Linked DNA regions of Homo sapiens: region 2 is linked to region 1. The links come from fine-mapping of genetic effects on gene expression. A gene starts in region 1. The other region holds a variant in brackets. All regions are shown on one strand. Distances are between the middles of the regions. Region 1 holds the start of DARS1 (aspartyl-tRNA synthetase 1). Region 2 overlaps LCT (lactase).

The links.
Region 2: its variant is fine-mapped to the expression of DARS1 in monocytes after LPS (Fairfax 2014, PIP 0.95). The same link has a PIP of 0.9 or more in monocytes.

The regions. Positions count from the first base shown.
Region 1 is chr2:135,984,107-135,986,965 of GRCh38, reverse strand. It overlaps DARS1 (aspartyl-tRNA synthetase 1), which reads left to right and starts at 1,340. Exons shown (of 16, transcript NM_001349.4): 1 at 1,340-1,563. The coding sequence starts at 1,498. DARS1-AS1 (DARS1 antisense RNA 1) reads right to left here and starts at 1,790. Exons shown (of 4, transcript NR_110199.1): 1 at 1,450-1,790. RefSeq lists an enhancer at 1,494-1,593 and a silencer at 1,644-1,703.
Region 2 is chr2:135,792,459-135,795,371 of GRCh38, reverse strand. It overlaps LCT (lactase), which reads left to right. Exons shown (of 17, transcript NM_002299.4): 14 at 597-731. Among named protein-coding and RNA genes, the nearest start is that of LCT-AS1, 26 kb to the left of the region's middle. The variant TG/G (reference allele first, on the strand shown) is at 1,400.

The sequences.
Region 1 (2,859 bases):
GAGGCAATCCAAGTTTTAAAAAAAATTCCAAGATGAAGCAACTTCACAGACCCCCTTCTGTATTCGAATCCCATGAGTATAATGGGATGCCTTTTTTAACGGAATGTGATACTGATCATGAATATTCAGTGTTGCTCCCCAAGGAATGAGTAAATTCTCCTGCCCCCATGAACTCAGGAATGACGATGTGACTTGTTCTCGCCAATAAACTAGGAGAATGTGAAATGTGTCACTTCCAGGCAGCCATTTTAAGAGCTAAATTCTCTTCCTGACTCTGTAATAATGGAAGCATGTATCAAGATGGCGCATCTATCAGCCTAGGTACCTGTGTAATATTAAGAACAGGAACTAGGACTTATCTTTTTATTGCCAGCACCTGATAGAATGCCTGGCACAAAGTAGATGTTTGTAAATAATCTTTGATCAATTAAATAGGGAATAAAATTTCATACCACCTGCAATTAGAAGGAAAGCTACAGGCAAGCAAGGACCATGGCTGTCTTCTCACTACTCCATGGGGGAGCCTCCAGAGAGAGCCTTTCACTTGCGCTGGGATCTATGTGCACCCCTTAACACTTTGTGCCAGACTAAGACACTACCAAGTCAGTTGAAACGACGGAGTGCAAACTCTGGCAGGGGAAACAGTATTAAACCAAATCTCCAAATTATTTTCAATTTCGATTCAAAACTCATGAATGATAGCTTTTTTAAAAAATCAGTTTTTTAAAAAAGCCTAACTTGGGGATATTCGCCCATTGGGCAACCAACACTATGCACTGTCCCTAACACTGCAACAGATCCAGGCAATCAATGCAATTGTATGCGTTTCTTGTTGTCGTTGCCACTGTATTTACACCTCACTTACACAGGGACTGGTAACCCATGCTGCCTTGGCAAGCCAACTGCACTCCTCTGTCCCAACAAGCAGGGCAATGGATTGCGAAGAGGCCTCCTCCGTCCCCAAGCAGCTACGTCGCCCAGGGGAAGAGAGAAGGCGGGAAAGTCCAAGAGAGGAGAAACCAAGGCCCGCGCTTAGGTGGGTGTTTTAGTGACGAGTCTGCGGTTACAGCCGAGCGGAGTTGAAAGGGCTGTTAGAAGAATGGAGCAGAAGTCGCAGTTGGGACGAAGCTGAAGAGAGCTGGCATTCGCCCAGGTCTACAGCCAGCCACCTGGTAACCCCTGCCCCCGCCCCCAGAGCCAATCCAGCGAAACTACCGCGAATTCCCGGGAATTCCCTCCAACTCCGGGAAAACTCCCGGAGGGGCGGGGCAAGAGTGGGAGGAGACCCTGCGCGCGGCCGCCAGCGCTCCGGGATCTCGAGATAGCCGCAGCTCTCGCGATCTTTCTGGAGCCGCACCTCCACGCGGAGTCCGAGCGCGTGTGCTGAGACCCCAGGGTCGGGAGGGCGGAGACTGGGAGGGAGGGAGAAGCCCCTTTGGCCTGCCTTACGGAAGCCTGCGAGGGAGGGTGGTGTCCACTGCCCAGTTCCGTGTCCCGATGCCCAGCGCCAGCGCCAGCCGCAAGAGTCAGGAGAAGCCGCGGGAGATCATGGACGCGGCGGAAGTGGGTTTCCTCCTTTCCTGGGCCTGGGAGGACAGACCCCTGGGCCGGGCTGCGCCGAGGGAGGGAGGAGGGGGAGTGGGGCCCTACAGGTCCTTGTCGGCACGTTCTCCGCAGGCTGCGGGCGTGGGGTCCGGGCGCCTAGAGCCCTTGCCCCAGCAGTGGGGCCAGACCCTCTCCGGACCGCGTTTCTTGCGGGGGTCACCTGGGAGTTTGGCCTACTAGAAGCGTGTCCCCGGGGTGGGGAGGACGGGAAGAACCAGCCGCCCCGGAAGTAGGAGCGCGGCGTCACACTTGAGTCTCTCTGGGTTAGGCACGTCCTGCACGTAATGCACAATCCCTGGGAAAATTTTAATAAGCACTAGTAATCGATATGTACTCAGCCCTCGTGTTCCTAATGCTTTAGCAAGTAATGACAGTACTTAGCAAAACCATCTGCCAATATGTTTAATGACCATTTCCCATGTGACAGCTTTAAAGAACACATGTCATTTTTATTTACTTTCTCCCTCTCAGTGACCCGGTAAGGTAGGTAATAGGAGTTACCGAGAATGCATTTGAGGTGAAGTGACCCCAAATCACGTGGATAATTCATAACACCCAGTGATCCTTCGGTGCTTTTCAGAAATCAAAGTTTGAAACCATCCTACAAGTTATGTGTGCTGTAGTACTGTTAAGCCTTAATTTCCGTCTGGCTCCCTAATTTTTCTATAAGGAGTTCTGAGTTTGTGGTAAGCAACATGAGAAGTAAGGTCATCTTAGAATACTAAATGAGGAAGAGTCACTGAAATATTAATAGTACTAATTATGAATGCAACTTTTTTGTCCTTCACACAATTTAATCTCCTTCTGTTGCCCTCAGGCTTCATTGTGTGACTGTATCTCTCTACTCTGGCCAGGGTTATCTTTTTCTTTAAATTGTTCAGTAAGCGCCTTAAACATGTCTGGTTTTATTTTGGTGTAAACACAAAATCCAGCACCCTCCTGCTCTAAAGGAGAGGATTCCAACAGGTAGCTGTAAAGTGACAGAAACTTAATTGTTTCATACAGATCTTAAGTTACCTTGTAAAAACTAGGGCAATTATTTTTGTGTACTCTTAATCTGCTTAATTACATAAACTATCAGTGTACCCTTACAGATAGTATAGGTCTAGATACAAGGTAGACATTGTGGCAGAGTTATGCCATTTTATAGCTAGAAGAATCTTAGATCATTTTAGAGGTAAAGTAAGATTGAAATAAAGGCCACTTATCTATTTAATAAGTATATTTTGTTAACAGATTGGACCCTAGGTCTTC
Region 2 (2,913 bases), 190 kb after region 1:
GCCAGGAGTTGTGGCAGGCGCTTGTAGTCCCAGCTACTTGGGAGGCTGAGGCAGGAGAATCACTTGAACCCAGGAGGCGGAGGTTGCAGTGAGCTGAGATCGCGCCACTGCACTCCAGCCTAGGTGACAGAGCCAGACTCAGCCACAAAAAAAAAAAATTATACAAGATCTAACTTTACAAACATAGGGGAAGAGTCTCAGATATGTACCTCAGGCATGCTCTTGATTTTGAAATCTGTCATAGATGCTAAATATCAGAATTTGCATATGTTGTTTGAAGGAAATTAAAAACTGTTTATGCATGTGTGTGTGTGTGTGTGTGTGTGCGCGCGCGCGCGTGGGTGCGTGTGTGTGTGGTCCTTCAGGTTTCAGAGGCTCTTGTAGAGACCTAGGGAAGCCAGGTTTATGGTCTGGCTGGAGGAGCCGCAGTGCTTCCTGCACCGCCTGAAGGACCTCTTCTCCTTCCCTGCCAGTTTCCCCTACTCACTGCCAAGTGCCTGGGGTTCGGAGAGCTCCCCCGCCCCAGCCCTATGACGTTCTCTTCTCAAAGCATGGCTCTCCCTGAAGCCCTGCCCTCAATGGCTTCTTCCACCCAGGCTGCCAGAATTTACAGAGAGTGAGAAGAGGAGGATCAACGGCACCTATGACTTTTTTGGGTTCAATCACTACACCACTGTCCTCGCCTACAACCTCAACTATGCCACTGCCATCTCTTCTTTTGATGCAGACAGGTAAGTCCACCAACAGGGAGCCCGGAGCCATCTCTGGAAAAGGCAGAAAGGTGCCCTTGGCTGTGCTCTCTGAGGCCTGCCCAGCCTCAAAACAGGGCCTCCAACGCCGAATGTGCCGGGGTTTGCAAGATGCTCGCCACCCCACAGATCCCAAGGAAATCTCCAGCAAGCAAGAGGGAGAGAAGGCCGGGGTCTCCAGGGCACCTCCCATTAGGGCACATGTGCTTGGCTTTTTGTTTTTTTATTTCATTTTTAAAATTTATTTATTTTGCGTTCTTTTTCACAGGCTGCTTAACTCTAAAAATGCTTGGTTGTTAAAAAGGATTTTCAAGAAAAAAATTGTTTAGGTTTTATCAAAATTCGCTTTAATATTAATAAATATTACAATAATACAAGAGTAAAATTTTATTTTCTCTTTTTAAACAATGCTTTTATGAAGTAGAGATAGTAAAAGATTTTGGTTCACCTTTTAAGTAACAGTTTTTATTTTATTTATTTTTTTTGAGACAGAGTCTCGCTCTGTCACCAGGCTGGAGTGCAGTGGCACAATCTTGGCTCACTGCAACCTCCACCACCCGGGTTCCAGTGATTCCCCTGCCTCAGCCTCCAAGTAGCTGGGATTACAGGCGCGTACCTCCACGCCTGGCTAATTTTTTTTTTTTTTTTTT[TG/G]TATTTTAGCAGAGACGGGGTTTCATCATGTTGGCCAGAATGGTCTCGGCTAATTTTGTGTTTTTAGTAGAGACAGGGTTTCTCCATGTTGGTCAGGCTGGTCTCTATCTCCTGACCTCAGATGATCCCCTTGCCTTGGCCTCCCAAAGTGCTGGGATTACAGGTGTGAGCCACTGCGCCCAGCCGATTGTCTTTTTCTTTATGATATCTATTTATCTAGAGACTTTTTCATCCATATCCTGTATTGTTTTTTAAATTTCTCTAAGTTAATTTTCACCTTTCTCTAGTACCTCCTTGAGTAGTTTAATAATCAACCTTCTGAATTCTTTATCTGGCAATTCAGAGATTTCTTCTTGGTTTGGATCCATAGCTGGAGAGTTAGTGCGACCTTTTGGGGGTCTTATAGAACCTTGTTTTGTCATATTACCAGAATTAACATTTCTGGTTCCTTCTCATTCAGGTAGACTGTTTCAGTGGAAAGATCTAGAACTCAAGGGCTGCCCCTCAGATCCTTTTGTCCCACAGGGTGATCCCTTGATGTGGTGCTCACCCCCTTTCCCTAAGGATGGGGCTTCCTGAGAGCCAGACTGCAGTGATTGCCATTGCCCTTCTGGGTCTATCCACCCAGCAGAATTACTGGGATCTGAACTGGTGCTGAGGAATGTCTGCAAAGAGTCCTGTGATGTGATCTGTCTTCAGGTCTCCCAGCCATGGATACCAGCACCTGCTCCAGTGCAGGTGGCAGGGGACTTAAGTGGATTCTGTGAGGGTCCTTGGTTGTAGTTTTCTTTCGTGCACTGGTTTTCTCAAACGCTGGTTATGCGAGCAGTGAAGTTGTCATGTGGACAGACTCAGGACCTCTGGTTAGCCAGGATGTTGCAGGCAGTGGAATTAGTTGTTGTTTTCTCTTTCTTTGGAGCAGGGTTCTTCTGTTATGAGTTGCTATAATGGCGTGAGTTGGTTGGTCTCCAGCCAGGAGGTGGCACTTTCAAGAGAGGAGGTGGCACTTTTGAGGTGCTTTCCCCTTCCACTGCCACCAGCTGCGGTAGTAGAAGGGGGATTACAAGGTTGCCCTACGTTGGCCAGGGTATTTGGGTTTCTCAGGTTATGGGCGGGGCCATAGAGCTCCCAAGAGTTTATGTCTTTTGTCTTCAGCTACCAGCAAAGGTAGAGAAAGACCATCAGGTTGGGGCAGCATTAGGCATATCTGAGCTCAGACTCTCCTCGGGTGAGGCTTGCTGTGGCCACTGTGGGGGAATAGGGGGCTGGTTCTCAGGCCAGTGGAGTTCTGTTCCCAGGGGTATTATGGCTTCCTCTGCTGTGTCATACAGGTTGCTAGGGAAGTTGGGAAAGCTGGCAGTCACAAGCCTCACCTAGCTCCCATGCAGCCAGCAAGGCCAGTCTCACTCCTGCTGTGCCCTGCCAACAGTGCGCAGGGCAGAGATCTCACCCCAGGCCACAAGCCTTCTCTCTGAGAAAGCAAACAGGGCTTTCAGGCCTTGCCCCTCCCCAC